3 linked regions of the Homo sapiens genome follow. The protein of the gene in region 1 interacts with the protein of each later gene in a pairwise test. Each region holds a gene or a part of one and is shown on either strand. Other genes may lie near its edges. The genes, in order: MAPKBP1, RGS20 and ALG13.

The links.
Region 2: the proteins of MAPKBP1 (region 1) and RGS20 interact in binary tests that used the Homo sapiens proteins (3 or more experiments, as listed by UniProt).
Region 3: the proteins of MAPKBP1 (region 1) and ALG13 interact in binary tests that used the Homo sapiens proteins (3 or more experiments, as listed by UniProt).

What each region holds. Positions count from the first base shown.
Region 1 is NC_000015.10:41,803,572-41,814,078, reverse strand, and holds part of MAPKBP1 (mitogen-activated protein kinase-binding protein 1), read right to left. Parts: intron 3,197-10,507; coding exon 3,134-3,196; intron 2,902-3,133; coding exon 2,844-2,901; intron 2,123-2,843; coding exon 1,952-2,122; intron 1,564-1,951; coding exon 1,426-1,563; intron 1,161-1,425; coding exon 978-1,160; intron 750-977; coding exon of another isoform or gene 732-749; intron 459-731; coding exon 298-458; intron 1-297. UniProt on the Homo sapiens protein: Negative regulator of NOD2 function. It down-regulates NOD2-induced processes such as activation of NF-kappa-B signaling, IL8 secretion and antibacterial response. Involved in JNK signaling pathway.
Region 2 is NC_000008.11:53,881,661-53,892,167, reverse strand, and holds part of RGS20 (regulator of G-protein signaling 20), read right to left. Parts: intron 1-10,507. UniProt on the Homo sapiens protein: Inhibits signal transduction by increasing the GTPase activity of G protein alpha subunits thereby driving them into their inactive GDP-bound form.
Region 3 is NC_000023.11:111,683,402-111,693,908, forward strand, and holds part of ALG13 (UDP-N-acetylglucosamine transferase subunit ALG13), read left to right. Parts: intron 1-1,563; coding exon 1,564-1,702; intron 1,703-2,735; coding exon of another isoform or gene 2,736-2,754; exon of another isoform or gene 2,755-2,773; intron 2,774-4,485; coding exon of another isoform or gene 4,486-4,600; exon of another isoform or gene 4,601-6,771; intron 6,772-10,507. UniProt on the Homo sapiens protein: Catalytic subunit of the UDP-N-acetylglucosamine transferase complex that operates in the biosynthetic pathway of dolichol-linked oligosaccharides, the glycan precursors employed in protein asparagine (N)-glycosylation.

The sequences.
Region 1 (10,507 bases):
AGCATCCAACCAGAATACTTCAATCCCTTGAACGATTCCTAAAATCACCCAACGCAAACCCAAATCCCATATGTCCCTCCTAACACCCACTTACTGAGACTCTCCACAGTTCTCCATGGGGTGGGGTCTCCTTGGTTGCAACAAGTACCAATAAACCCAAATTCTTCTGTCTAAAGAGGTGTTCCCAATAATCTTTGGGGCATCAATACACTCTTCACCTGCTCCCTGAGGCACTGACAAGAAAGACTGGGCAGGGGTAAGGCTACAAATGGAGGAAGGGGGGCCCACATAGCTCACCTGGCCTCGGTGACGCTAGCAATGTCTGTCCCCAGAGCATGGGGTCGGGGCAAGGTGCTAAGGAAGTGCAGGTTAGAGGGGTTGAAAAGGCGCACGGTGCCATCAGCACAGCCACAGAAGATGTAGTCTTGGCTCACAGAGATGCAGTGGGCCACTGTGGTCTGTGGGCAGAGTGGCTCAGCTCAGCAAGGCCACCTGCCCACTCAGTCTTCTCTCCTCCCCACCCATCAACAGCCACCTGCCAAGAGGAGGGACCGGCCAAGGCAGGGGCAAGGGAAAAGCCGCCCAGCTGCCCTGTTCTGAGCCCCTCAGCCCTGTCCAGCCAGGGATTAGGAACCGAGGATTCTTCTAGGCACCAGAGGATCCAGTAGGAAAAGCCCAGTGAAGAGAAAGAAATAGCATGAGAAAGAGAGGAAGGTGCAGGCACCACTTACTGTGAAGCTGTCTATGTTCTGAGCGGAAGAGGAAAGCAGGGGAAAGAGACAGAAAGAGCAGAGAGGAGGCAGTTATACAGATCACCAAGGGCTGGAAATGGGCCAAGCTCTAGCTCCCCCAAGCTTCGTTCTCCTGGGATCTCCCGTATGCACAAGGGACCAGCCCCTAGTCTGAAGCCCTGGGCACTAGTTCTCCCCTGAGCTGAGACATGAGCAGACCCTACCCCTGGGGACGGAGGTACTTACCCTCAGCTCCACCCACTTGTCCAAAAGCCTTCGATCACTGAACTCGCACAGCAGCCCTGAGGACGTGATGCAGAAGGTACTGTCCGCCTTTTTTCCTCTGCCACAGGCCACATCAGTGAATAGGTTGTTCCGTAGCTCTCCCAGCAGCCCTGAGCGGCCCAGCAAGGGCACAGTGGCATTCACCTGTGGAGGCACACCACTGTTACACCCCCATCCACCCCAGAGCCTGCCCCTGGAAACTGGGCCCTAGGAGAGTACAGGGGACGCCTCCAGCACCTCCTTGCTCTTTGGGCCTACTCCTCAGCCCAGACAGCATCTGGCTCATCCAAAACTTCTGCATGACTGCTGGGAATGCAGAGAGAGGCCCAAGTGGGGCAGAGTCTCCTGGGTTGGGCTGGGCAGGCCCTGCCAGGGGCCTTGGTGGCTACTCCCAGCTTCAGCACCTCACCTTTGAGGTCTTGCTGTCATCGAGATACCAGAATTTGATGTGTCGGTTGCCTGCAGTGACAAAGTAGCTGCAATCCTCAGAGAAGGACACTGCTGTCACCCGACTGGACACCTTGTTGGAGGCCACCACAATGTTTTTCTGGAGGGGATGCCAAAGGAAGAATCAAGGCTCTGTCTCTTGGAGCTAAGAAGACAGTGACTCAGAGAATGGAGGAGAATTAGAATTTGTACTTGACAAAGTGTTTCTTTCCAGAATTTACTGGCCAGAAAAAGAGGGGTAGGGAAATAATCCCTTTCTAGAGGAGCTGAAAAGATTCGTTTCCTGCAGAAGTCTTTGAAGGCATAAAGCTAGCCCCTTCAACCAACATGCTTGGCCACACAGTTGCTCTTTTCTGCTTCAAATAACTTTCTAGAATGAGAATGGTTCAGTGGGGTGGAATGGAGCAGTGCAGGTCAGCAGTCTCTTGCCTCCCCAGCTGACACTTGACCCCTGTGAGGCTGCCAGGCCACCCCACCCAGCCACTCACCTTCCAGGCCCACACGTTGACGATCATGTCATGCTGGTAGCCCACAGAGACAATGTACTTGGCGCTAGGAGAGAAGGCCACACAAGCCACACCATACTTGTGCTCCTGCAGCTCGGCCACCTGGCTGTGCTCTGCCACGTCCCAAACCCGCACGGCAGGCATGTGCCCACTCTGCAGGGAGGCAAGAACTGGAAGTGAGTTCTTGACTTCTCCACAGGCATACAGCCCCACTTCGTCTTCCAGAGCGGGGCCCTCGCCTCCTCAGCTACTAGATACCATCACTTCCCCAGCCAAAAGTCAGGGCAGGGTATAGAGGAAATATGATAAAGATCTGAGGGCAACAGTGATTACCAGGAAGAAAGTGGCCCCGGATTTTAGTCAGCATCTCTGGGTGGCCGTCTGTACTTCAGGTTGTTCAAAGCTCCCTGAATGGTTCTGATGGGCAGCCGGCATTGAGAGCCACTACCACTCAGGTCTATTTCTGCCCCTAGTAAGACTACGCCGCCAGGACAGAAGCGTTCCTCCTGAGCCCAGCAGGGGGCCCCCGGGGGTAAGGAATAGTTAAGGCAGTGGTTTCCAAAGCACGCTTCCTTCACCAGCAGGATCAGCACTCTCTGGGAACTTGTTACAAATGCACATTTCAGACTCCCATCCCAGACCTACAGAATCAGAAACTCTGAGGACCAGGCTAGTGATGTGTGCTTTCACAAGCCCTCCAAGTGATTCTGATGTACACTAAAGCTTGAGAACCACTATTTTAAGGTATAGCGAAAACCAGGATTTGGTGTCTGTTTCAGAAGCCAAAGTGACAGCAGGCCTAGGACCGCAGCTCTCTGCGGAGGCCAGGACACCTGCCCTCTTTACAGTACTGCCAGCCCTCTTCCTCACTCACCTCTCCAGTGACCAAGTACTTGCCATCAGGGGAGAAGGCAAGGGCAGTGATGGTTTTCCTGCAAGAGATGGGGCAGGCTCAGAGGGGCACTGGCAGCCTGGCCTAAGCCTAGCCCCCTCCCAGCCTCTCAAAAGGTGAGACCAGCAGACACCAATGGCACATGTGGCACTTCCCCATCTGGCTTTAGGACCCAACCAGGTCCCAGCCCCCAGAGCCATAGAGACTCTAGACAGTGCCCTTCTCATAGCTCCCAGAAGGAAGAGGTATCCTGAGGACCCCAGCCCATTTACCTGGAACTGTTGAGGATGTGGTGCTGTTTGTGTTTCCGGGGATTGAACAACACAACCACACACCTGAGGAGATGAGCAGACAACAGGCTCAGCAGCAAACCACAGCTCCCCCAGGAGCCCTCCAGGCCACCCAGGACTTCCAGTCACCCGGCAGAGGGAGCTGGGTAGAAAGAGCTCAGAAGGGCTCCACTGTTTTTTTCCTTTTCTTTTTTTTTTTTTTTTTTTTTTGAGACAGGATCTTACTCTGTCATCCCAGCCAGAGTGCAGTGGTGCAAACATGGCTCAGTGCAGCCTCAACTTGCAGGTTCAAGCAATCCTCCCACCTTAGCCTCCCTAGTAGCTGGAACCACAGGCATGTGCCACCATGCAAGCTAATCTTTGTATTTTTTTTTTTTTTTTTTTGTAGACACGGGATCTTGCCACGTTGCCCAGGCTGGTCCCAAACTCTTGAACTCAAGTGATCTGCCTCCCAAAGTGCTGGGATTACAGGCATAAGCCACCGTGCCCAGCCTCCACTGCTTTCTCCTGGCAACCTGTTCTTGCTCCTTTTCCCCACCCAAGAGGAACTATCTCTGTAGCCCCATGAGGGTGAAAGGGTTCCCTGGAAGCCTGTCCCCCCAGCCAGGCCCCTAAATACCAGCTCTATCTCTGGCCATACCCACAAAGGGCAGCAGGGACACAGGCCATCCCGCAGCCCTTGTGCATACCCCAGGAAGGGGTGTAGGAGGGAAGAAGAAATGTGATTTGGGCAAAGCAGGCCTCGGGTGCACAGCCCGTTCACAGGCTTGGGGCCACACGTGTATCAAGCATGTGTGCCTTAAGATGTAAGGCCTCTCACGTGTGCACCCACGTGTGTACCTGGCAAGAGCTGGCCCCCCACACCATGTGTTGAATAAGGAAGGAAGTGGGAGGCGAGGCAGGGGCCACACAGCAGAGAGGCTCAGTAAGATGGGGTGGGGGATAGAGATAGCCTGAGAAGGCCTGGGAAAGCCTTACAGTGCCACAGAGGTCCCAAGCCCCACCCTGAGAATCTCTGGCCCCAAGAAACCTGAGAAGAACCCCCCGACTGCCAGAAGCAGAATCAGGGACTCTGCCTGCCTCACAGAGAAGGTGGGGGCAACCTCTCCCGTCAGGCAGCAAGGCTGCTGGATGGAATCAGGTCCTGCCTTTCCAGAGGCAGCTCCGGAGATGGAAGCTGGGTAGTAGGAATCGGGGGCAAGAAGCCAAAGGCCAATAGCCAGGCAGCTTCTCTTTAGGCTTCCTGGCTGTCAGCAGGCCCTGGCCCGTTGCCCCTTCTGCCTCAACTCTTCATTAGCACTGGAAATAGCAGACAAGAGCAAGCCTGGAGACTGCGAATAGGAAAGGCAGGGAGGAGAGAAAGAGGAGACAGCTACTTCCCCCAGACCTAATTTTCCCTAGTGGGACCCCACTGCAGCCCCCATATCTGAACGCCACTACTGGCTGGAAACTTGAAGGGAGGTAGGTGCAAGTTGCTAGTGAGGGCTAAGCATCTTGGGCTCAATAAACCACTTTGATATGCAAATTTGGGGACACTGGGACCTCCGATGTGACTAGATATGCCCAGAACTGCCAGGCTGACCAACAGCTGTGGAATTCCTGAGTCACATCATTTTCTCCTCTAACCCCTCAACTCTTCCTGTTTTTTTTTCCTCCTTCTTTCTCCATTTCCTACTCTTTCCTTGTTCCTGTTTCCTTTCTCTGTTTTTTTGAGACAAGGTCTCACTATGTTGCCCAAGCTGGTCTTGAACTCCTGGGCTCAAGTAATCCTCCTGCCTCATCCTCCCAAGTAGCTGGGATTACAGGCTCATGCCACCCTGGCTCAGCCCTTCCTTCATTTTTTTTTTTTTTTTTGAGGCAGGGTCTCGCTCTGTCACCCAGGCTGGACTGCAGTGGCACCATGGCACCATCACAGCTCCCTGCAGCCTCGACCTCCTGGGCTCAAGCAATCCTCCCACCTCAGCCTCCCAAGTAGCTGGGATTACAGGCACATGCCACCATACCCAGTTAATTTTTGTATTTTTTGTAGAGATGGGGTTTTGCCATGTTGCCCAGGCTGGTCTTGAACTCCTTTCTCTTTTTATACCACTTTCTAGTCTCCTGCTTCCCCTTCTAGAATGTCACAGTCAGGAGGGTTTTAAAAAGTATGACAGGCCGGGCACAGTGGCTTATGCCTATAATCCCAGCACTTCGGGAGGCTGAGACAGGCAGATCACCTGAGGTCAGGAGTTCGAGATCAGGCTGGCCAACATGGTAAAACCCCATCTCTACTAAAAATACAAAAATAAGCCAGGTGTGGTGGTGGGTACCTGTAATCCCAGCTACTTGGGAGGCTGAGGCAGGAGAATTGCTTGAACCCAGGAGGTGAAGGTTGCAATGAGTTGAGATCATGCCATTGCAGTCCAGCCTGGGCGACAAGAACTAGACTCTGTCTCAAAAAAAAAAAAAGTACGACAAAAGCAAGATGGCTCTGGAAACTCTGCACCCCATCGCTCTTGAGCAGGCAAACGAAAATTATAACAGAGCCGGGAGTGGTGGCTCACGCCTGTAATCCCAGCACTTTGGGAGGCTGAGGCTGGCAGATCACGAGGTCAGGAGATCGAGACCATCCTGGCCAACATGGTGAAACCCCATCTCTACTAAAAATACAAAAATTAGCCAGGCGTGGTGGCGGGCACCTGTAGTCCCAGCTACTGGGGAGGCTGAGGCAGGAGAATGGCGTGAACCCAGGAGGCGGAGCTTGCAGCAAGCCAAAATCACGCCATGGCACTCCAGCCTGGGTGACAGAGCGAGACTAGGTCTACAAAAAAAAAAAAAAAAAAGAAAGAAAGAAAGAAAATTATAAGAGTTCAAAGTGCACAGATTTAGATTTTTTTTTCTTTTTTTTTTGAGATGGAGTCTCACTCTATCACCCAGGCTGGAGTGCAGTGGCGTGATCTCGGCTCACTGCAACCTCCACCTCCCGCGTTCAAGCAATTCTTCTGTCTCAGCCTCCCCAGTAGCTGGGATTACAGGCACCCATCACCAAGCCTGGCTAATTTTTTTATATTTTTAGTAGAGATGTGATTTCACTATATTGGTCGGCTGGTCTCAAACTCCTGACCTCAGGTGATCCACCCACCTTGGCCTCCCAAAGTGTTGGGATTACAGGCGTGAGCCACTGTGCCCAGCCAAATTTAGATATTTAGGTTTTAATACTTTATGCAGTATATGAAAAGTAATAGCCCCAGGCCTGCCACTATCATGAATTCAGAGCCCAGAAAGTTCTCAGTGGTTAAACAACGTTTTCTGAACCTTCCTGCAATCTGTGCTGACCTGAGGCCCTCTACAGACTCCTCTCTCCAGCAAAGGCTCTAGTCTGAATGGGGACAGGTTCCCTAGCCTTCTGATTAGTTACACAGGAACCACAGTAAAGGGCTTCAGCTGAGAGTTGATCTAATTGAATTGACTCGATGCATAATCCAGCCAACCATATTCCAAATCCAGAAAAACTGGGATCTATTTGCAAGTTTATGAGTTTTCCCTTAATTCTCATCCCAAAGCAGCATTTCAGCCTTTAAAGGGTAGTGCATCAGACTGCTTAAAACACTTTCCAAGTCACTGCATACAAACTCAGTCTTCCTGGGACACAATATCCTCTGTTTCCTCCTTCTCCTATGTTCAGCTCCATGGTGGAAGAAGGGTGAATGATGCATGTGTGTGTGTGTAGGAACACTACGTAGATAGAAGGATGACTGGCTAGAGGCAATGAGGCAATTTCTCCCTCCTCTAACATCCCCTTGCCCCCAGTATAGCCTAAGAAATTCTCAGGTGTGCCATGGAAGAGCTAAGCAAGAAAAGGAAACACACAGAGGTCATCCCTTAAGCAACTATTTTTATTTCTAATTATTGATATTTGGAAGCCATCCAACAAGAGAAAGACAGCATGCAACCACGGTCGCAGCTACACATGCAGGGACGATAACGCAGATGCTGAAGTGAGAGCAGCATAGCCAGGGCTCCTTGTGTGCTTGACTTGAGGCCCTCCTGACCTGTTCTCAAAAGCACCAAGGAGCCCTCTCAGCCTTCTTGGTGAACTCTGAGCAAGCTCCTAGGTCAGCTGGGGAGAGGAGTGCGGGGCACAGTTTGTATCAATCTTTCTCTCCACATCCCCTGACCCTGCCCAGCAGGGTGAGCCCTTGCTCAGTGCTGGCTGGGATCCACCACATGCCAAGGGCTGGGTTGGACCAATCAGCTGAGTCCTGCAACTCAGCACCTGAGGGTGCAGGGCGGCTGCTCACTCTCACAGAAGGACGTAAGGCCTCAGCCTGGGGGAGTCACGCTGTGGAGTACCAGTGCCAGGTGCTGGGCCCACTGCCCAGGAAGGGCCAAGCCTTCAACATCCCCCTTCCCTACACAGGTCCAGGCCTGCTGCTACCACAAAGAGCCCAGGATTCCCATAGGATCCACCTCCTACCACTCTCCATCCCCCAGATGGGATGAGCTATGCATGGGGCAGCACAGACACAGGGAGCAGGACACACAAGGTCAACCAGGGACCCTGGGCCTTTGAATTGTTTTCTTTCAGACCAGGTAAAATCTGAGAATGACTCACAGAAGCATGCCAAAGGGGCTTCTGGCCTCGCTCAAATGTCGCCCTCCAGCCCTATTTATCATTACAACCCTACCTCCGTCACTGCTACCGCTTCTACTGTTTCCAAAGCACACATCAATTTGTAATCACGCTTATAACTTACACTGGGGGTGGGGATCCATCTTCACACACCAGACTGCCAGTTCTGTGAGGATGGTATTTTTGGTCTGTTTTACTTACTGTTAATTTCCCAGGGCCTAGACGATAGGCCCTCAGTAATTATTTGTAAACAAGTGAATATGTCTTCAAGTCACTAGGGGCAAGATCTCAAAGCCCTGGCTGCCAAGGAACCTCCTGGGTAGCAGAGTGTGAATGAGGGCCCTGGGGAGAGGTCCATGGTTCTCCTGTACCTCAGGCATTTAGGACTCCTTGATGCTCAAGGGCAGTGTAGAGGTGGAAAGAGCAGAACACTGAGGTCACAGGCCTGTCTGCTAACACACTGCATGATCCTGGGCACCAAGTCCCAACCTTTTCTTCTCTCAGGCCCACCTGGTCTCTCTACTGTCCCTGGCGAATACCCTACAGCAAGTAAGAAGGTAGCTCTGTGTTCCTTCAGCTCAGGTGTCACGAGAACACAGTTCAGGAGGAGAATTCTGTCACACCCAGTGCAATGCTTCAAAGCTGAGGATCTCAGAATCAATTTTAACATGGGCTGAGGAAATGGAGGGCCTCCTCAGGAGAGCAGGGGTTCCCTCTTCTCCTCCCCACTTAAATCAACCAAGAGGTCTCTTCTTAGCTGCCAGATACACCCCGTCACCTTGCTGGGACACTTCCCATCCCAGCGGGAGAGGAGCAGCTGTGCGCAGGGCACTCACCCAGGCCATTCTGGCATAGGAGCCAGGAGAAACCCATTCTCAGGACTGGGCACAGGGGCACAGGGGCACAGGGGCTGTGCTGGGCTTGAAGGCCCATCAACCTTCCACCAGCTGGCTGAGGAAAAGGCCCAACTCAATTAAGGGTGTTCAACTCAATTAAGTCTCTCAAAGGGGCTGTCTGGCATCCTCTAGTAGGGGGGCTTCCCGTGGGGAAACAACGGCCAAGGGATGTAGGAGCCACTAGGACAGGCTCCATGCTCAGCCTGGAGCTCCTACCCACCTCTGCCTGACACACTGCCCACCCTCCTTTCCTGTGCTGTTCCATTTCCTTTCAGAAAACTTTGTTTTGGTTTGATATTCGCCTCCGGGCCTCAGAGAATTTTCTGAGTTTTGTTTCTCTCCTTGTTTCTAGGATACCTGAGCTGGCTCCCAAAGCAACAGGCACAGGAGGAACAAGAGCGTGGGGGCTGGGGGCAGTGTAAGGATGATCAGATAAGAAAAGCAGGGAGACAAGGAGGGAGGTGAAGAACCTGCTTGTGCTCACACAGAATCTGGTGGCCCCCAACATCACAGCAGCACATCAGGGAGTTCTAGAACACAGCAAAACTCAAACACCCAGAAAAGAAGCCATTTGCACAGACAACTTCAAGTTCTAAGAAATCAAAAGGTCAGGGAACAGATTAGGGGCACTGCCCAGGGATGGCCTAAGCCAAGCATACACGCTTAGGAAACCTACTAGAGGTTCCATCAGGAAAGCCTGTACACCATCTGGAAGGATCATGACTCCCAGGCACATGCACTGGGCTGAGACCTGCTCATAAACATGCATAAGCACATGCCCTTAAAGGCCAGGCCTGGAGTCCAGGGGTGTGTGAGGAAGAAAGCGGGCAGGACTCCACACTCTCCAGGGCAGGGACACAGGTCTCAGCATGCACCAAGCAGCACCCCAAGGCCTTTTTTGCCTGTGCTACATCCAGCCCCAGCCCCACCTCCAACAAGAGGGAACCTGGCTTTCCCAGGCAGAGGCAAGAACAAGTGGAATTCCCCTGAGGCAGGCTGCACAAACTTATCCAGTAGAGAGGTCTTTCCATCAGCTTGCTTCTCTAGGGGAAAATGGAGCCTAGCCCAGCCTTTGCCAGGCAGAGCCCGTGTGGCTCCCACAGCACCCTTACTGCAGCCATTAAACACCAGAGGACCACTTGGGAGAGACACTGACCCCAAACCCAGGGGCAGAAGTCTCCCTTGCACAGACTGAGCTGCCCATAAATGGGGCTCTTCTCATTCAAAGGGCAGGTAGGCAGCTTAGAGGAAAAGCAATTTGTTAAAAATAAGCAGAAAGTGGCCGGGCACAGTGGCTCACACCTGTAATCCCAGCACTTTGGGAGGCCAATGTGGGCAGATCACCTAAGGTCGGGAGTTTGAGACCAGCCTGACCAACATGGAGAAACCCCATCTCTACTAAAAATACAAAATTAGCTGGGCATGATGGCGCATGCCTGTAATCCCAGCTACTCTGGAGGCTGAGGCAGGAGAATTGCTTGAACCCAGGAGGCGGAGGTTGCGGTGAGCTGAGATCGTGCCATTGCACTCCAGCCTGGGCAAGAAGAATGAAACTCTGTCTCAAAAAAAAACAGTGTGGTCTCCCCCTACTCTGTGCCATTTTAACAATCAGAGCTCTACAGTCATACTACTTGGGTTAGAACCCCATTACACACACTAGCTATGTTACCTCAAGCAAACTCCTTAACCCTTTTGGTTTTTTTAAGAGGCAGGGTTTCACTGTGTCACCCAAGCTGGAGTGCAATGGCACGATCATAGTTCACTGCAGCCTTCACCTCCTGGGCTCAAGCAATCCTCCTGCCTCAGCCTCCCCAGTTGCTAGGACTACAGGCACATGCCACCATACCC
Region 2 (10,507 bases), on another chromosome or scaffold:
AAACTATCACAAGGACAAAAAACCAAACACCGCATGTTCTCACTCATAGGTGGGAACTGAACAATGAGAACACATGGACACAGGAAGGGGAACATCACACTCCGGGGACTGTTGTGGGGTGTGGGGAGAGGGGAGGGATAGCATTAGGAGATATACCTAATGCTAAATGACGAGTTAATGGGTGCAGCACACCAGCATGGCACATGTATACATATGTAACTAACCTGCACATTGTGCACATGTACCCTAAAACTTAAAGTGTAATAATAATAATAATTTAAAAAAAAATCTGGGCCTAGGCTGCCTAGATGAAGGGACTGACCAAAAAAAAAAAGTTGCAAAAATTATAACATACTTCTTTTCTTTCCAGTGTTTTCAAACTGACAAAACATGTATTACATTTTACACTCACAAATGGCAAATTTTTAAATACACATTTTCTGAATTACATTGGAAACAAATGATATAAAAGAAAGATAACAATGTAATACACAGAAAATTAATTCAAGAAAAATGTCAATAGGTCAAGGCAGATCACTTTTTTTTTTAGACAGAATCCTGCTCTGTCACCCAGGCTAGAGTGCACTGGCATGATCTTGGCTCACTGCAATCTCTGCCTCCCGGGTTCAAGCGATTCTCCTGCCTCAGCCTCCTGAGTAGCTGGGACTACAGGCACACGCCACCACACCTGGCTAATTTTTTTGCATTTTTAGTAGAGATGAGGTTTTGCTATGTTGGCCAGGCTGGTCTCGAAATCCTGACCTCAAGTGATCCACCCACCTTGGCCTCCCAAAGTGCTGGGATTAAAGGCATGAGCCACTGCGCCTGGCCCAAATCACTATTCTTATGCAACAACTAAAAAACTCAGATAAATAAGTGAAATTACATTTCTAAAGTCATCAGAGAACTGTGAAAGCAAAAATATTATATAAACTAAAATTTCTGAGTAAGAGAGTTCTTCCAAGCTGAGCTGTCTGTCACTAGCTGTTTTTTTCCTGAGGGCTTTTGCTGACCGTTAGCACAAGCTGTGGACATAAAGGGACTCTTTTCTCATGTGGCAGAACAAGTCCCCTTCAGTAACAAGGACTTCCTCAAACACATGGCTGGGTCCTACAAGACATTTATCAAATGTGGCGGCCATATGGGGAAGGTGGAGGCAAAGAACAAACTTAAAACCTCTGAAGGCAAGACTGAGTCTTCCATTCTTTTGAGACCAAGGAGATAGAAGTCCATCAGGCTTTCATTCTGGAATCCAAGAGAAAATTCCCAAGGAACAAGAAAGAACTGGGCATTAGCTAAATCTTATTAAAACTGCAGCCACCAGTCTGGGTAACATAGCGAGACCCCATCTCTACAAAACATTTGTAAAAAATGGTCAGGTGAATTGGCAAGTGCCTGTAATCCCAGCTACTCAGGAGGTTGAAGTGGGAGGACTGCTTGAGCCCAGGAATTCTAGGTTATAATGGTGCCAATGTACTCCATTCTAGGGGTGACAGAGGGAGATTCCATGTCAAAACAAAAAAACCCCCAAAACTGTTACCAGATCTGACCCATTCTAATACCTGCTGGCCTGAAGTGATCAGCCCTTCAGTCCTTCATCCTTAGACAGGAAATCCCTCCAAGGGAGATTCAATCCTTGCTGGTGGAAGAAATTACCAGAACCTACACAGTTTCTTTATATACAATGTCTACATATAATAAAAATTACTAGATATGTGAAGAGAGATAAAAATGTGATGAATAAAAAAATGGATACAGGCACACAGATGATCTCATTGGATTTAGTAGATAAGAATTAGATGGACTAAACTGATGAAAAGATGGGAAATTTCATCAGATAATTTAAATGTATTAAAATGAATCAAATTGGCATACTACATTTAGAAGAAAACAAGTTCTGAAATTAATAACTCACTAGATGATTTGACAGAAGACTCAGGCACAGAGGAAGACAGCTTAATTAACTAAAACACAGGTCAACAGAAAATATTCAAATTGAAGCAGAAAGATATGCGAAATGAACAAAACAGATCAGACAATAAGAGACATGAAGGAAAAAGGCCAACATATCTGTGATTTGGGTCCCAGAAGCAGGAGAGAAAGAAAGAAAACCAGACAAAGCCATATTTGAAGAGATATTGAGTGAAAATTTTCCAAAGTTGATGAAAGACGTCAATCCACAGATAAAAGAAGCTCAGTTAACCCAAAGGAGAATAAATAAAATGAAAACCACATATAGGCACATTATATTCACTGTGGTAAGTCAAAAATGAGAGAAAAACTTTATGAGGATAACAACAGGCTACCTTCAAAGAAGCATAACTTTCCAACAGAAACTAGGAAAGTCAAAAGATAATGGAATGAGAGTGTAAAGGCAGGCCAGACTGGAAGAAGAGATTTGCAGCACGTGCACACACACACACACACACACACACACACACACAGAATTTTGACAGATGGCTTGTATCCAGAATATATAAAGAACTGTGACAGATCAATAATAACAATAATAAAAGATCAGCGGCACAATAGAAAAATGGGCCAAACAGAAGTTCAAGACCAGCCTGGGCAACATGGTGAAACCCCATCTCTACCCCTTCCCAATATCCAAAATAAAAAAATTAGTTGAGTGTGGTGGTGGACACCTATAGTCTCAGCTTCACGGCTAATTGTGCCACTGCCTTCCAGCCTGGGCAACAGAGTGAGACCCTGTCTCAAAAAAAAAAAAAAAAAAAAAAAAAAAAAAAAAAAAAAAGAGAGAGAGAGAGAAAGAAAGAAAGAAAAAGAAAAATGGGCCAAAGGCTTGTAGAGGCATTTTAAATAGAAAATATACAAATGACTTGACCCAAAAACATATAAGAAGATGCTTAACATCATTAGTAGCCAGGGAAATACAAATTAAAACCATAATGAGATACCACTACACAGCCACCAGAATGACTAAAGTTAAATGGGCAAACAATACTAAGTACTGGTGAGGATGTGAAGCAATACACACTTTGCTGGTGGGGATGGATGTAAACTGATTTGGACTATGAAACAGTTTTGCAGTATCTACTAAAGCTAAACATACACTGGACTTATTACCCAACAATTTTTATCCTGGGCATATACCCAAAGGAAATAAGTTCATCAAAAGACATGAATGAGAATGTTCATATTAGCATTATTCATAATAGCTCCACACTGGAAACAACTAAAATTTCTTCAGTAGTGGAATGGAATACACTGTGGTGTATTCACACAAAGGAACGCTGCACAGCATTAAAAAATAACAACACGTACAACAACAAATGAATCTCAAAAACATAATGCTGAGCTAAAGAACCAGATGCAAATATTATACACTGTTTAATTACATATGAAGTTTAAAAGCAGGCACAATTGGTATATGGTGAAAAAAGTTATAAAAGTGGTTACCTGTGGGAGTGAGTCCTGAATGGAAGGAAGCGAGACGGAATCTTTGGGAGAGCACGGGGGGCTGAAAATATCCTATATCTTCATCTAGAGCCGTGGTGAGTGATTTTGGCCCCAGAGGACGCTTGGCAATGTCTAGAGACATTTTTGGTCATGGCATCCAGGGAGGGGCGCTACTGCATCATGCAGTGGGTGGAGATCAGGGATACTGCTAAACATCCTACAGGGCAATGGACAGCCCCCCTCAATAAGGAGTTGTTCAACCCCAAATTTCCACAGTGCTGAGGTGAGAAACCCTGATCTAAATGGTGGTTCTGTGGGGGTACACTTACATAAAGTTTACTAAGCTGTACTCTTAAGATGTGTAAACTTTACTGTAAGTTATAACTCAAGTAAATGAAGTTAAAAGCTGTCATAAACCTCACAAAAATACCAAATAGCTCCTCACTGAAACCTAACAAACACAGAAAAACTTTGTTTCAGTTTTAGAAATACTCTAATTCATTAAACAGTCCTAACAACTGAAATTTGCGGGGATTATAGTAGGTCAGGAAGAATTAAACTCTGTATGTAAAGTCCCCCTTAAATGCAAAGAAATATCTATACCTTTCTTTATGGCAGGAGATATATGAATTATATCTGGGTAGTCACTAGAAATAAGTATTTGTAAAAACACAATGAATGTATAATGGAAGACCCCATACATGTAAGATTCTTCTGGAGTCATCAAAAGATGAATAGAGAAAAATATACATATACCTTTTTTTTTTTTAAGTCAGGGTCTCACTCTGTTGCCCAGGCTGGAGGGCAGAGGCAAGATCATGGCCCACTGCAACCTCAGTGTCCCCAGGCTCAGGTGATTCTCCAGCCTCAGCCTCCCAAGTAGCTGGGACTACAGGTGTGCACCACCACACCCAGCTAATTTTTTGCATTTTTTAAAGAGACGGGGTTTCACTATGTTGCCCAGGCTGGTCTGGAACTCCTGGGCTCAAGTGATCCACCCGTCTTGGCCTCCTAAAGTGTGGGAATTACAGGCGTGAGCCACCACGCCTGGCCACATGTACTTTTTAACAGTAGTCTAATCTGAGTTCTCTGGATAATGACTTCCTGTCATTAATTATCAACATGACTTTTATACAAATTAAGAAATCTATGGGCGTGTGCTCTTGGGCTGCTCTCTGGCCAGCACCCTCTCCTGTGTCACCTCTCTTGTGTCCACAGTCTAACCCATCTCTTCATTTCCCTCAACCTCAGGTGGAGCCTCCACCAAAATGCAGATTTTTCCAAAAATCCTTACAGGGACGATCATCACCCTAGAGGTTGAACCCTTGGATACAACAGAAAAATGTAAAGGCCAATATCCAGGATAAGGAACGAATTCCTCCTGATCAGCAAAGACAAGTGACTGGAAGCTGGCAAGTAACTGGAAGATGGACATAACTTTCTCTGACTACAACATTCAAAAGGAATTTACTCTTTTTATGTTGTGTTGAGACTTCATGGTAGTGCTAAAACTAGGAAGAAATCTTACACGACTCCCAAGAATAAGCATAAGAGAAAGAAGGTGAAGTGGGTGTCCTGAAATACTATAAGGTGGATGAAAATGGCAGAATTAGTGGCCTTCGCTGGGAGTGCCCTTCAGATGAATGCGGTGCTGGAGTTTTTATGGCCAGCCACTCTGACAGGCATTATTGTGGCTAATGTTGTCTGATTTATTGCTTCAACAAACCAGAAGACAAGTAATTGTGTATTAGTTAATAAAAGACATGAAAAGAAAGAAAGAAAGAAATCTACGAGTCCCTTAAATCACATTATCACCCCACCCTGAGACATAAAAGTCCATTATAAGGGTGAGGTAAGGAGTAGGTTACATAATTCTTTCCAATGTTGCAAAAATTCAACAGCTGTATAAGTGTTGATTCTAGCCATTCAGCCCTAAAAGGGTTAAAGTCCCCAGTGTCCTTAGTCTAAGAGCAGCAGTACAAACTTGTGCTCCAGCCTTGAACAACCACAATTCAGTCAGCTTCAGAGGGGCACAAATGTAGACAAACCAGATAGCAGGGCGTTCTCCACTCCTTCACTGTTGGACGGAGGTGCACATCGTACAACCCAGCACCTCAGGAAGCCAAGCTATCAGATAACTTTGCATGAGATGCCTTTGCCTAAAACCCAAATGCTCACATGAAAAGGATTTTACACTTTAGAATAAAATAAATGCGTAACTAGAAATTGAGCTTTCAAAATCAAAAAGGTCAACTGGCTTTAATAACTATTGAAATAACTCATGTAAAATATCACTGCTGGGCAACAGAGCATATTACTCATATTTCACAAGTGATTCCCTATGCAAATAGCTAGACTCTAATCAGCTGGATTAGAATCAAGGTAATCTACTCCATGAATTTATAATCATGTAATATTACTCTGAGCACTCAGCCACATCAAACTTGATTGTGAATGGCCTCTCCAAGAGCCCATTCAATTGTACTATGAACTGACTCACTCCAAGCAGCGTCGCCTTAACTCTTGAGCTAGCTGCGCAAAGTAACATTCAGGGACCATCTCAGATGGTGCCGTGTAGTCAGTGACTCCCACTTATTGTACTAAATGCTAAGCTCTGACTCAGAGTGAGCCCTATTAGTTGCTGACTGACACTGTACTTGTTTGAATAGAAGCTCACATTGTGAGTCACCTGGTGGTGCACTGAAAACCAATCTGAAATATTCCCAATTGGACAGTGATTCACATTATAATCATATTGGGACCTAACTTGACACATGTGATTTCAAAACTAAGTTCTGCCAAACTGGCTTGGGAGCATGCTAGAAAGTCACTCCCTTCTTAATGCCCTGTCCTTCTGTCTAAGAACATGTAGTAAGTATCCCAAGATGCAAAGTATTCAAGAGTAGGGTATTCATGCAAGAGGTTTCTTGGAGTCAAAAAAAAAAAAAAAAAAAAAAGAGTAAGATACTCAGTATCCAGTTCACACACTGGAAAAAACCACGGTTTCCTTTTTCAAGGATGCAGGCATAATTCCTAGAAGTACCTCCCCTGGAAGACACACCATCCCTATAAATAACTTTGTAAGACCAGATGTTCACTAGAAAGTCTCTGCCGTATAATTCATTTTTTTTTTTGAGACGGAGTCTCCCTCTGTCGCCCAGACTGGAGTGCAGTGGCGCAATCTCGGGTCACTGCAAGCCCCGCCTCCCAGGTTCATGCCATTCTCCTGCTTCAGCCTCCCGAGTAGCTGGTACTACAGACGCCCGCTAATACGCCCAGCTAATTTTTTGTATTTTTTAGTAGAGACGGGGTTTCACCGCATTAGCCAGGATGGTCTCGATGTCCTGACCTCGTGATCCACCCGCCTCGGCCTCCCAAAGTGCTGGGATTACAGGCGTGAGCCACCGCGCCCGGCCTCTGCTGTATAATTCTTAAACTGTGGATGTGAGGGCTGGACCTTTAAGCCACTATCTGCATCTGTCCATGGAAGGTGAATGTGGTTAGATGCCCACATGCGGAAATAAAAGAACAGCAGGATTTCAGGAATTAATACTTAATGCCTGGAATGAAACCAGTTACAGGCTACTGCATTAAAATAAGAAAGCTTTTCTCTTTTACTCTCGCTAGTCCATAAAATCTAGAATAATAAAATCTCCTTCTGTGTAATTTTGAAGGCGTTTTCTAAAAGGCTTTCTTATAGGAAAGACCTTCAAAGCCAGCTGGAAGGATATTTTAAGAATTCAAGAAAAGCTCAAAAATGATTTCTAAAACTGCTACAGGAGATTAATAGAATATGCAATCAAATGTATACCCAAGTGGGGCCTAAAATGCTAATGCTGGCTCTGACAATAGCTTGATCTGTGACCTTACCTTACCTGAGGCGAGTCATGTGGTCATGTCTTATAATGTGAGGGACCAAGATAAAGCTGTGGGACAACAGTAGCCACGACATGACTGCCTGGTCCTTCTTGGTGCTAGAGATAGCACATGCTCGTACACTTTTTCCTTATTTATACTTTCTATCTGTTAACAGTTCATTAATCCGTAGTAAACAGGAAATCAGCAGTGTGGTGTGTAAGAGCCCTGGGGAATGAGTCAGAAGTCTTCATTCTATTTTGGCCCCTAATTAGCTGGAGATCTCTGGCCCAGACCCTTAACCTCTCTGAATGTTTCCTCATCTGTAAAACGAAGGAGGTAGAATAAGTAACCTGATTTTCATCATTCTGTATTTTTGATATAAGGGGTGTTTCAGCTAAAACGTTTACAGTGATCTCAGACAAGTTAGCACTTCAAGCTCCTAAGGTACATTTTCAGATTCTCTTAAACTGGCTGTTCATCAGCCCTGGCAACACAGCGAGATCCTGTCTCTATAAAAAATTAAAAAATTAGCCAGGTGCGGTGGCAGGCACCTTAAGTCTCAGCTACTCCTGAGGCTGAGGTGGGAGGATCCTTTGAATCTGGGAGTTCAAGGGTGCAGTGGGCCTCAGTCGTGCCACTGCACTCCAGCCTGGGTGAGAGAGTGAGACCCAGCATCAAAAAAAAAAAAAAAAAAAAAAGACTGTTTTTCTAATTTGGATGATGGACATGTGTTTCATTATGCATACTCTTTATAGTATACAAAAATATGCATTCTGTTACTGATCTTATTTATAGTTTGAAGTCTAGCCAATTTAGCATCAATATAATAATAGTAATAACAGCTTTTGCTTGGTATGTGCCATCCCGTTATAAGAGCTCTATGTTATTAATTTACTGAATGCTGTCAGCTAGCACATTAGGTAGATACTCTTTTTTTTTTTTTGAGACGGAGTTTTGCTCTTGTTGCCCAGGCTGGAGTGCAGTGGCTCCATCTCGGCTCACTGCAACCTCTGCCTCCTGAGTTCAAGCAATTCTCCTGCCTCAGCCCCCAGAGTAACTGGGATTACAGGCGCCAGCAACCACACCCGGCTAATTTTTTGTATTTTTAGTAGAGATGGGGTTTCACCATGTTGGCCAGGCTGGCCTAGAACTCCTGACCTCACGTGATCCACCTGCCTCGGCCTCCCAAAGTGCTGAGATTACAGGAGTGAGCCACCGTGCTCTGCTGAGCTGCCGAGGTAGGTGCTCTTATTACCCCCATTTCACAGATGATGAAACTAACGCCCAGAGAGGATAAGTAACTAGTCCAAGTTTATGCAGTTAGGTTGGGATCTGAACCCAGTTACAGAGCTCAAGACTCCCACTGGTTTGGCAACACTGCCTCTCATATGCGTTACTAATACGTGATAAGAAAGATGTCACTTATGGCCAGGCGCAGTGGCTCACTCCTGTAATCCCAGAACTTTGGGAGGCGGAGGCAGGCGGATCACCTGAGGCCGGGAGTTCAAGACCAGCCTGACCAACATGGAGAAACCCCGTCTCCACTAAAAATACAAAAAATTAGCCGGGAGTGGTGGCGCATGCCTGTAATCCCAGCCCCAGCTACTTGGGAGGCTGAGGCAGGAAAATCTCTTGAACCCAGGAGGCGGAGGTTGCAGTGAGCCGAGATCGCGCCATTGCACTCCAGCCTGGGCCACAAGAGCGAAACTCAGTCTCAAAGAAAAAAAAAAAAGAAAGAAAGATGTCACTTAACGAACAGAAGATAAACAGGATGAGACCCCCAAAAAAATTAGGTTTGGAGAAAAAATATTTTAACAAAAATAGTAAATTGCAAACTATGGTTGTGCCAAAAAACTTACAGATAGAGTAATTTCACTAGAAATGTCCTTGTCAAGTTTGGGGCGGAAGTCAGACCGTTTTGCGAATTTGAACATTTGTTTAGTCAATTCCACGGTTTGGAGCCACTAGGGATGAAATGAAGCCAAGCCACGCCAGGGCCCTGCCACTTGTGTCCCAAGGAGGGTGGCTGGAGACTGATGCAGAAGCCCCTTCCTCCCCACACTCCGGGGCAATGAGGAGCCCGCGTGCAGGTGCCTAATTCCGCTAGCCAGTGGGCGAGGGTCCTGCTGGCACCGAGGGCACCAAGGCTGGGGTTTTGACACCAACGAACCCCAGCCAGGTGACTGGGGAACGTGGGGAGTTCGACAAAGAGCGATAGGCTTTTGCCATTTTTTTTTTTTTTTTTTGAGACGGAGTCTTGCTCTGTCGCCCAGGCCGGAGGGCAGTGGCGCGAGCTTTTGCCAAGTTACGAGACGGACAGGAATCGAGGAGATTCCCCTGTAGCGCTCTCCACCTTCCGGACAGAAATCCTGTAGACCACGTTCACTTCTCCACTCCGTGCATCGCCCGTGGCCCGTGGGCAGCAGCTGCTCCCCTGGGATCCCCCTCGCCTGTCCGCGAGCTCTCGCACGGCCGCGTCCCTGCTGCTGGGGTCGCTCGCTGGCCCTGGCTGCTCGCCAGGATTTTCCTTTGATGCTGTCAAGTCCGGGAAGCTCACGATGCACCTCAGTGCCCGCGCGCCGCCTCTCCCAAAGCCCCTTCCCCACTCACTCCCCCACAAGCGTGGAGGGAGATGGGGTAGGTCGCGGCGCCTATAGACCCCCTCCCGGCGCCCACTCTCTCTCTTCCACTTCTCTAGCAGCGGTAGGGCCGCAGCGCACGCAAACCTTTCCCCAAAACGCCCACCCCACTCTCAGCTAGCCGCTTCTCTCAGGGCTCCTCCGCCCGAGCTGGGTGTGGGGATCGCCGCGCACACAGAGACGGGAAAGCCACCCCGGTCCCGGAGCGCCGCTTCCCTAGAGGCCCCTGGCCCGTCCGCTCCCCCAGCGCTGGAGGACAGCCGCGCACACAGACCCTCCCCTCCAACGCCCACCGCGGTCCCCAGCTGCAGCCTGCACCTCCACTTCCCGCCCCCAGTCTCCCGCCCTCCGCCCCCTGCTTTCCAGTCTCCGCAGTCCGGGCGCCCAGACTTGTTTCGACTTCCCAGGGCAGCTCCGAGGGTGCGGAAGATCAAGTGCCCGGGTTTGTTCCAGGAAAATCCCGGCGGCGCCTGCACGTTAACTGCCCTGGCGCAGGCGAAGGGTGGAGGGCACTTCTCTGTTCATTCGGTTTTCAAGAGCGTGAACAGAGGCTCCGAGTGAACGCCCATACCTAGTCGGTCTTCTAGGGT
Region 3 (10,507 bases), on another chromosome or scaffold:
TCACTGCAACCTCCACCTCCCGGGTTCAAGCGATTCTCCTGTCTCAGCCTCCCCAGTAGCTGAGATTACAGGTGCACACTACCACGCCCCGGCTAATTTTTTTTTTCTTTGTATTTTAGTAGAGACGGGGTTTCACCGTGTTGCCCAGGCTGGTCTCAAACTCCTGAGCTCAGGCAATCCACCTGCCTCGGCCTCTCAAAGTGCTAGGATTACAGGCATGATCCACTGCACCCCTCCGGAGTTAATGTTGTTAACTAACCACCCTAGCATAAGATACCCAAAAAGGACTTATCTACTCACTTATCAATCTCCTTGCTCTCATTTAAAATAGTTAGATGATTTTACATTTCAAAATTGAATTGATCCTAATATTCTATATTTGCATATTCATGGAGATCTATCCTTGACTATTTCTGGGATAGCACCTCACATGTAAACCCATAAGAAGTGGTCAGGGTTTTTCATTATTGATGCCTGTCTGTCTCTATTGTAGGCTTGCTTTTCTACTTGGGGTTGAATAGAAATGAAGTATAGTTTCACATACAGTATGTCAAACCTGGATCTTATTTGGATTCAAGGCCATGCCCAAAGCATACTCCAGATGGCCCATCGTACAATGGTTTCACTTAGAGTTTTTCAACTTTATGGTGGTGTGAAAGCAATACGCATACACATTCAGTAGAAACCGCTCTTCGAGTACCCATATAACCATTCTGTTTTACACTTGGAGTATTTAATAAATGGCATGAGATAGTCAACACTTTATCATAAAATAGGTTTTGTGTTAGATGATTTTGCCCAACCACAGGCTAATGTAAGTGTGTTCTGAGCATGTTTAAGGTAGGCTAGGCTAAGCTGTGATGTGTGGTGGGTTAGGTGTATTAAATGCATTTTCTATTTAGAATATTTTCAACTGCTTTTTTTTTTCCTTTTTTTTTGAGGTGAGTTCTCACTCTGTCACCCAAGACAGGGTGCAGTGGTGCAATCATAGCTCACTTCAAGCTCCAACTCTTGGGCTCAAGCAGTCCTTCCGCCTCAGGCTCCCCAGTAGCTGGGACCACAACCACCATGCCTTATTGTTTTTGTTTTTATTTTGATTTTTTAGTAGAGACAAGGTCTCTCTATGTTGCAGAGAGTGGTCTTGAACTCCTGGGCTCAAGCGATCCTCCCACCTCAGCCTCCCAAAGCGTTGGGATTGTAGGCATAAGCCACTGCACCTAGCCTGTTTTCAACTTATGATGGGGTTATACCCCGTCACAAGGCTATACCCCATCGTAAGTTGAGGGTCATTGGTACTAGAGAGCAAGTAGCATAGCACTGAATCATAGGCCATAATGTCATCATCAGTGATAAAGTAATGTATTTTTCAAATAAAGTTTCTAGCACTTTTTATTAGAGAGCAACTGATAACTATACTCTTGTCATTTTGAATGTATAATTGAAAGACCTAGTTTGTAGTTCTGTCAACTTAAGTTTTTTAACTTTTGATTTCTAGCTATAAAGCTTCGTGGGGACCTTAACTTATTTCAAATTGTGTTGAACAAATTTGATTTATATTTGTAGGTGCAGGAAGCTGTTTGGAGACTCTGGAAAAAGGAAAGCCACTCGTAGTGGTTATAAACGAAAAGTTGATGAACAATCATCAGCTGGAACTGGCAAAGCAGCTACACAAAGAGGGTCATCTCTTCTATTGTACCTGCAGGTATGCTAGAGACTGATTATTATTATCTCTTGCCTTAATTCGTCCCTTGCACTTCCTCTTATCCACCTACCTAACCCATCTGTCTCTTCTGCCTCTTACCTTCTCCCAGTTACCAAACCTTTTGATTTTCTCAGCTGTAAAATCCTCCCATTTGTTTGTCTCCCATTTTGCAATCTCTGTGTTGTATTTCTATGTGTATCTGTGGCTGTTTCTTTGCATATGTGAATATCTGAGAGAGTGTGTGTATGTGTGTTTATTTAGGCGTGCATGTCTCCAAGACACTAATTTTGGAGTTCTAAATTTTGAGTTCATTATTTAGATTTTCATTATTCAAGGAAGACAATTTGCTCATTTTAGTTAAAAGTTTTGCCTATAGTAAATCCACTAAAATCCCTAAATTATATTTACTCTTTCATTTATTCAGTTACACCCAATATATAAAAGGCACTGTTTTAGGTGCTGTGGATACAGTAGTAAACATGAGATAAAGTCCCTGTTCTTATGGTGCTTACATTCTAGTGGTGGAAAATTGATAATAAGTTCACAAATAAATGATCAAGGTATTTCATGTGGTGAAATGTACTATGAAGAAAGTAAGACAGGGTGATGTGGTAGCTGGGGTGAAGACTGATTAGAATTGTCAGAGAAGGCTTGGCAGAGTACCTAACATTTTGATCTGAGACCCGAAATACAAGGAAGAGCCAGTCATGTGAAGATTTGGAGGCAGAAGGAACAGCAAGTGCAAAAGCCTAAGTAAGGAATGAACTTGGAGCTTGGTGTGTTTGAGGAACAGAGGGAAGATTAGTGTTGCAGGAGCATAGTGAGCAAGGGAATATAATAGAAGATGAAGTTGGGTGGGGGTAGCTTATGTAAGAGTTCTGATTTTATTCATGTTTATTGAGAAGCCATTGAAGTATTTTAAGCAGAGAAATTATGGTAAGGAGTATTATTTTCTACAAGTATATTAGAATTCAACAGGAACTGATCATCGTAATAGAAGGATGAAGAAAATTACTTGTTTGTTTTCTATTAGTTCTTCCTTGAGACACTAGAAGCTTGCCAAAGGGCCAGGTCAGTAATTCCCACTTGTTTGACTTTAAAACCTATCCTAGTTTGATGTTGCAAGAAGTAAATGCCTCATAGAATTACTATATATGTGTATATATATATTTATTTACATTATAGTAAAATGAAATTAATTTTAAAATAAAAAACCTGAGAAGAAACTGGCTGGAGCATAATTTTTCTTTTAGTTTTACTGCTTCTGTCTCTTAGGCACTCAGTAAATACTTATTCATTCATTAAATATTTATTGAGTACCTTCTATGTGCCAGGCATTGTTCTAGGCACTTGGTATACATCAGTGAACAAAACAAAGACTCCTGTTCTTAACTGAGAGGAGGCAGATTCATTGATTATTTCAGGAGTGAAATTGTTGGTGTCCTTATCACTATAATGTTGGAGAAGAGGGAATGTCAGGGTGGCTGTGTAACATAGAAGCCAGTCTTGAACTATTTAGTGAGTCAGGAGAGAAGCTAGATTAAAGAGGAATAAACTTATCTTCCTAACTGCTTTATGCAAGTCAATTTTTTCCAGATACTTTTAATTAGTATTTTCATTCTAAATGTTAAATCAGCTTTGATTTTGTGTTAGTACATTAAAAGGAAAACACTGATTTCATAAACATATCCTGACTTTTTACTCATGCTGAAAAGGAAGGAAACTGTACAAGTCTCCAATTTATTTTATTTTTATTTTTTTACAGTTTTAAATGTCTTTTTTTCTATATTAATTTCAAGAAAGTCACATAAAAGCAGTAAGCAGTGAGAAAGAATCAGTAATTGATTGGTTATATTTTCTTTTCTTTTTTTGAGACGGAGTTTCGCTCTTGTTGCCCAGGCTGGAGTGCAATGGTGCGATCTCGGCTCACCTCAACCTCCACCTCCCAGGTTCAAGCAATTCTCCCGAATAGCTGGGATTACAGGCATGCACCACCATGCCTGGCCTAATTTTGTATATTTAGTAGAGACGGGGTTTCTCCATGTTGGTCAGGCTGATCTCAAACTCCTGACCTTAGGTGATCCGCCTGCCTTGGCCTCCCAAAGTGCTGGGATTACAGGCATGAGCCACCACACCCAGCCAATAATTGGTTATATTTTCATTTTAGGTAAATCATTTATTTTCCCCAGACCTAGGCTGGGGGGTAGTATGTTTGTTCTAATTTAAGCGATTGGTTTAAATAAATTTCCGATGTAATGGTTCTATGTTTAAAACCTTATTTCCAGCATACATGGTGGTGTGGTATATTGTTTAATTGTATATGAAGTTATGATAGTAAATTACTGGCAAAGATTATTTCACAGTCTTCATGCATGGTCTAGTAGTTTCCCCAGCTTATTATCTTGTCTGGCAGCTATTACTTTTGGTTTCAATTTTTAAATTCTGTTTTCATGAATGAATTGTGCTTCAGTTTAAATATGCCCAGTCCTGAGAAGTATTACAAAGCCATGTGAAGACATTTTTCATGAAATATCATTTCTGAAATATATCAGTTGACATAGGAGATAAGGTATCTGCTGAATTTATATTGACATTTTATAGTACTCTTTGTATTGCTTTAATAATCCTAGTATGTATACTTATTAAAATATATAAAAATTCACATGTGCAGTTTTTAGAAGTACCACTATATTCTTGGAAGTTAGATTCAGTCATCAGTGGGCAGCAGATGAAGTATGGAATTTTCTCCCATGTTACCTAATATTTTTCTTCTTTTGTTTTAGCACGCTTCCTGGGCTGTTACAGTCAATGGACTTATCAACACTGAAATGTTATCCTCCTGGCCAGCCAGAAAAATTTTCTGCATTTTTGGATAAAGTTGTTGGATTACAAAAATAAACACTAAACTCTCAACACTTTAAAAGCAACCCCCAAATTCAACCTATGTAATGTGATTAAATCAAATTAAATACATAATATATATTTACAAAATAATATAATTAATAAACTTCCTACATCTATAGAATGTATAGGAAATTTTATGTTGTGCACATTTGCATTGGGTCCAAATCCTAATTGCAGTTTAGTGAAATTACTAGATTTTTTTCTAATCTTCAGTATGTAGTGAGCATTCACAGGTTTTCTCCTAGAATCTCAAGTGGAATTGGAATCATAAAAATGAATGAGATTTGAAAACTTTCACAAAGATTATAAATGTAGTTAGTTTGATACTCCTTAGAATAAAAAAATGAAACAGTAACAACTTTTATGTAAAAAAATTTTACATAAGAGTTAGCATCTTTAGCTTTATAATCTAAGGAACCAAATTTAAAAAATGATGGATTATGCTCTGTGAAATGAAAAGTTCAATCATTGCCTAAAAAAGATGATCAAGTTAGTTGATCTCTTGTACTTGGAAAAGCTACTTTTTTCCTAAAGAACAGAGTGGAGTGGATATATTCACTTTTTTTTTCTAAAACATACAAAGTGATAAAATAATCGTGCCTAATGTCAAAACTTTACTGGTTTGAGAAGAATAATCAAAAAGGACTTATACCAATAGGACTTACTATTGTTTTTTAAGGATCTCCTCTCACAGTGGTAATGAAACATTAACTGTAACAGAAATTTACAATTTATGTGCTTATAAAATTAGTTTTATGAATGAACAATAAACTGATGCATATAATGGCTTAAATATATGGTTTTAAAATTGACTTAACTTGAGCAAGATACATTATGAAGTTCTTTCTGATTAGAGTGTGTGGTCTCAAGACCTTTACAGTAGATTATCCTTAAGTGTCCATAGCTCTCTGGTACAATGTTTAGATATAGTTTATCTATCAAAATAGAACATTCACTATAAAGACCTCTCTTCCATTCCAATCATATTATCCCAACATGCTAAATGTTCCAAACATTTTATTTGGAATGCATTTTATCATGTTTTTATAGGTTTATTTTTCTGATTGTGTTTTATTTAGGCTAATATTAAAAAAATGCTTACTAGTGGTAGAAGGTGGTGACAAAGAAATACTCTGGGTAGCAGGAGGAAGCCAACTTGGATTAAAATTTTGCTGAGAATAATCTAAAAAGTGAGTAATCTGGTTGAGAATTCACAGCACCATAATCATAATTGTATATCAATGTTATGTTTTAGGAAAGGTCCTATTCAAATCCAGGGAGAGAATCTTTAGTGTTTTCTGGGCCCTCATAAATACGTTTTTCTCATTTGAGAAAATTGTGACTTTATGTTGGTCACTTAGTTTTTATAGTTTATGATGAAGAATTAAAGAGAAACAAATGAAAGGCAAGGTCTACTCAAATATCAGACAACTAAAAGGCTATACAGCCCCTAAATCCTTTGCTATCTACTTCCCCAGAATAATGCATAACCTAAATTCCATTATTTCATTTAGCAGAGGTTTAAGCCGTTGTTGTCAATTGTGTGCAGTAACGCCTCTGACTTCCCTTTTGTGGAATTTTGTATCGATTTTGGATTTTTAAGTCAAAGGAGACTTTAAAATCATTTTGATTTGGCACGGATTCTTGAGATTATCTAGTCCAATTCCATCATATTCAGATTTTACCATTTGCTTAAAGTATAGCTTTTGGCAGAACTGCCCCTAGGAGCAGCTCCTTGATTCCCAGTCCCCTGCTCTTTCTACCCTGCATAATATATGTTGTAAGCTTTTTGTTTCTTTATAGTTGTTTGCCTAGTGTTCATTTTAGTTACTCGAATTCCTTGCAAGGTAGGTTTTGTTTGTTTATTTATGGAAGTTATTTAGTAGGAATTTCACACTTAACTGGGTTTTCCTTTGGCGTATGACAACCTTACCTAGGACTTAGAAATCTGTGATTTCTGAGTTTTTGGAATTTAGGAAAATGCTCTGGGTAGGATTGATAGTAGATTGAATAAATTAAGACTTTAAGACAGAATTGTAGACTTTTGGAGTTGGGAGATAATTTAAAGAATATTTTAAACCACCAGTTTTACAGATGAGGAAACATGCTAAATTAATCACCACATTTACATCTTATTAGTCCTTATTAAAGAATGGTAACCAAAAGTCTGTTTGAAATGTTTGCTCTATTTGTTTGGTTTCATTACATGACAGAGCTGCAGGTTCTTGATATTAATGAGTAAGTGGAATGCAGTTTATTTAGCAGTGTTCTATTAGAGGTACTGAAATTTTCAGGGATAAGGAAATGAAAGAGAGTTTAGCATTGGGAAATTTGCACCATGGATAGATTAAGAGGTAGACAGTTAATAGAACATTTACGGGTTGGAGTAGATGAAAAGAGATGTGATGTTTTGGGATGACCTTGGGAATTAAGGATTTTAGATACTTATAATTTGGGAGGAAAGAAAGCTCAAAGGATTTGTTGGTAAGATAGTATAACCAATGAATTTGACATAGGGTTCTGGAACATTTAAAAGTAGTCATTATCTGCAAGTACCATCAAGTATCTGATTTTGGACACCTTAGACCTCTACTTTTTAATTTTAATTTTTTTTTTTTTGTATTTTAGTAGGGACGGGGTTTCACCGTGTTGCCCAGGCTGGTCGTGAACTCCTGAGCTCAGGCAATCCGCCCGCCTCGGCCTCCCAAAGTGCTGGTTTTACAGGCGTGAGCCACTGCACCCGGCTCTACTTTGTATTCTTTTAAAGGCAAGTCATATATAGGCACAAAAGAGTACAAAAAGGTTGTTTGCCACTTTAATATTTAGTTTGAGGAAGTTTTTCAAGACTAAGTAATGACTAGCAGTAATATAAATATTCTTCCTGGCCCTTTATTGTGGTATAAGCACGTAATTCCTCTGATTTGTTCATAAATGTAAAATTTGTGGAGATGACCAAAACACTTCATATAGTCTGAGAAATGACACATGGACAGATCATTTGAAATTAATTTTGGGGAAACATTTGGAAAGGGTCATCATGATAGCCATGTGGTGATCAATTTTCTGCTGTACATGTAATACCATTTATTTATTTATTTATTTATTTATTTTGAGACCAAGTCTCGCTCTGTCACCCAGACTGGAGTGCAATGGCGTGATCTCGGCTCAGTGCAACCTCCACCTCCCAGTTTCAAGTGATTCTCCTGTCTCTGCCTCCCGAGTAGTTGGGATTACAGGCATGTGTCACCCCGTGGGGCTAATTTTTGTATTTTTAGTAGAGACTGGGTTTCACCATGTTGGCCAGGCTAGTCTCAAACTCCTGACCTCAGGTGATCCTCCCACCTTGGCCTCCAAAAGTGCTGGGATTACAGGCGTGAGCCACCACACCCGGCCGTAATACGATATTTTTATTGGGGAGTGGGGAGTGAAAAATAATTTTGGTTAACACTAGTGCTTAGTATGTATCAGGTACTATTCAGAGCACTTTACACATATATACTCATTTAATCTTTAAATATTCCTGTGCAATAATTGGTATTGTCCATTCTACAAATAACATAATGTGAAAAAAGTTGTATTTCATTTTAGGGTCCAAGAGATGTTGTGGAAATTGTAATTTGAACACTGAATTCCAGTATACTTCCATCCTTTATGGGGACAGTAGGAGAGAATATTTGAAATCAGAGGATTTTCCTAAGAAATTTAGATTGTATGTTAGCCACAGGCGTAACGGTATGCTAGCCATAGGTGTATAACCTTTTTGAATTTTTACATTGCTACTTAAAAAACCACAGTGATGGCTACTCATAGAATCCATGTGTAGAATCCATGTGGAGAAACTCTTTCAATTGGTTTACCTGATTGCAAGTTATTTACAAATCTTTTTCTTTTTTCTTAGTTGTATTTTAAAGTTTCATTTTGGTCCTTGCTTTATTTCTTTTCTTGGAATTTTCAGCATTCCCACAGCTTCTACTGTTGACTCCTTTATCTGTATCTCCCAACTCTGATTTGGGCTCCTAAATGATATTTCCAATTGCCTTTGGCCCTGTCTGTCTGTTAATTCTGTAAGCACCTCAAACTCAAGGTGTGCCCCAAACTGAAATCATATTTCTTTTCATTCTTCTGAGGTGCTTATCTTTATTAATGGTATCATCATTTAGTCATTCTTCTAGCCTTTAACTCTGTCTCCAACCCCTTATATCTAATTGGTTTCCAAGCACTCACAGCTTTATTTCCTAAGTACCTCAAGCTTATGTATTCATCATTCAGGCTTTTAATATAAATGCATAATGAGAATCTACCTTTTGTATCAGCAGGATCCAAGACATGATTCCTGCTCTGAAGGACCTATGTCTTACTCATTTTTGAGTCCTTTGCCTGAAACACAGTAGGCTTTCCATAAATGATGAATGCACTTCTGTAACCTAGTACTCTTTTTTGATTGTCTTGATTAGGATTAGGTATTGTTCTAGGAAACACTGTCATCTTGTACACATTTATTTCATACTGACTTTGATTTGACAGCGAAGTATCTAGTAAGTCTCTTGTTCAGAAGATGTGACCATCATATTGTATGGTAAGTTTGTAGGATCAAGCACATATAAGAATAGCATCCCAAATATAACAGTGCTGATTCTATGCAGTATCTTAATGGTATTTAAGGGTCTGTCAAATAATGGTACCTGTCAGGGATTTGTGGCAAAACATGATGTTAAAAATCAGGTATATGAAAAGCACTATAGTGTTTTCTAGTAAAAGCTTACATAGAGAAAGGTTTAGGATATTACCAAACAATTTTTTTTTTCCTTTGAGACAGGGTCTCTCTGTCACCGAGGCTGGAGTGCAGTGGCAAGATATTGGCTCCTCTGCCTCCCCTGGTCAAGTGACCCTCCCACCTCAGCCTCTGGAGTAGCTGGAACCACAGGCATGGGCCACTACACCTGGCTAATTTTTTGTAGAGACGGGGTTTTGCCATGTTGCGCAGGCTGGTCTTGAACTCCTGGGCTCAAGTGATCTGCCTGCCTCAGCCTCCCAAAGTGCTGGGATTACAGGCGTGAGCCACTGTGCCCAGTCATCAAATGATATTTAATTACTTATTAAGTGGCTAATGGCTAATTCCCTACGTGAATGCTCTATTTATTATACAGTTTTTAATTCTTTTTTTTTTTTTTTTTTTTTTGGTAGGCGGCTAAACAAAAGGTAGACAAATCTGGCTAGGTTCAAACAGGAATGTAGAATACATGATGCTATTTATTTTTTTTTTTTTTAACGGAGTCTCGCTCTGTTGCCCAGGCTGGAGTGCAGTGGCATTATCTCCGCTCACTGCAACCTCCGCTTCCCAGGTTCAAGTGATTCACCCTCCTGAGTAGCTGGGATTACAGGTATCCACCACTACATCTGGCTAATTTTTGTATTTTTAGTAGAGACGGGGTTTTGCCATGTTGGCCAGGCTGGTCTTAAACTCCTGGCCTCAAGCGATCCACCCACCTCGGCCTCCTAAAGTGCTGGGATTACAGGCATGAGGCACTGTGCCCGGCCAGAATACATGCTTCTTAATGTTGATACTGATTCTTGAAAAATATTTTGACAGGCTTTTAATACCATTATATACCATCTATGTTGGTATTTCTATATCTTCATTGTCTTATAAATTTTTTACCATATTCTGGCCAAAATTACTTATTTTGATTGACACTTGTATCATAGCTTTGAACATGATTTTATTTTGGTGGCTGCAGTCCTGTTCTCTGAGGCAGTGGTTCTTAAGCTTCTTTCAGCCATGGAACTCTTTAATTTAAAACTGTGGCTTTTCTTCTCTATATACATGATTTTGCAGTGACTTTCAGAAAGTTTGCAGGACCTCATGGCCCCGGGTTAAGAATCCCTAGGCTGAGGCGAACT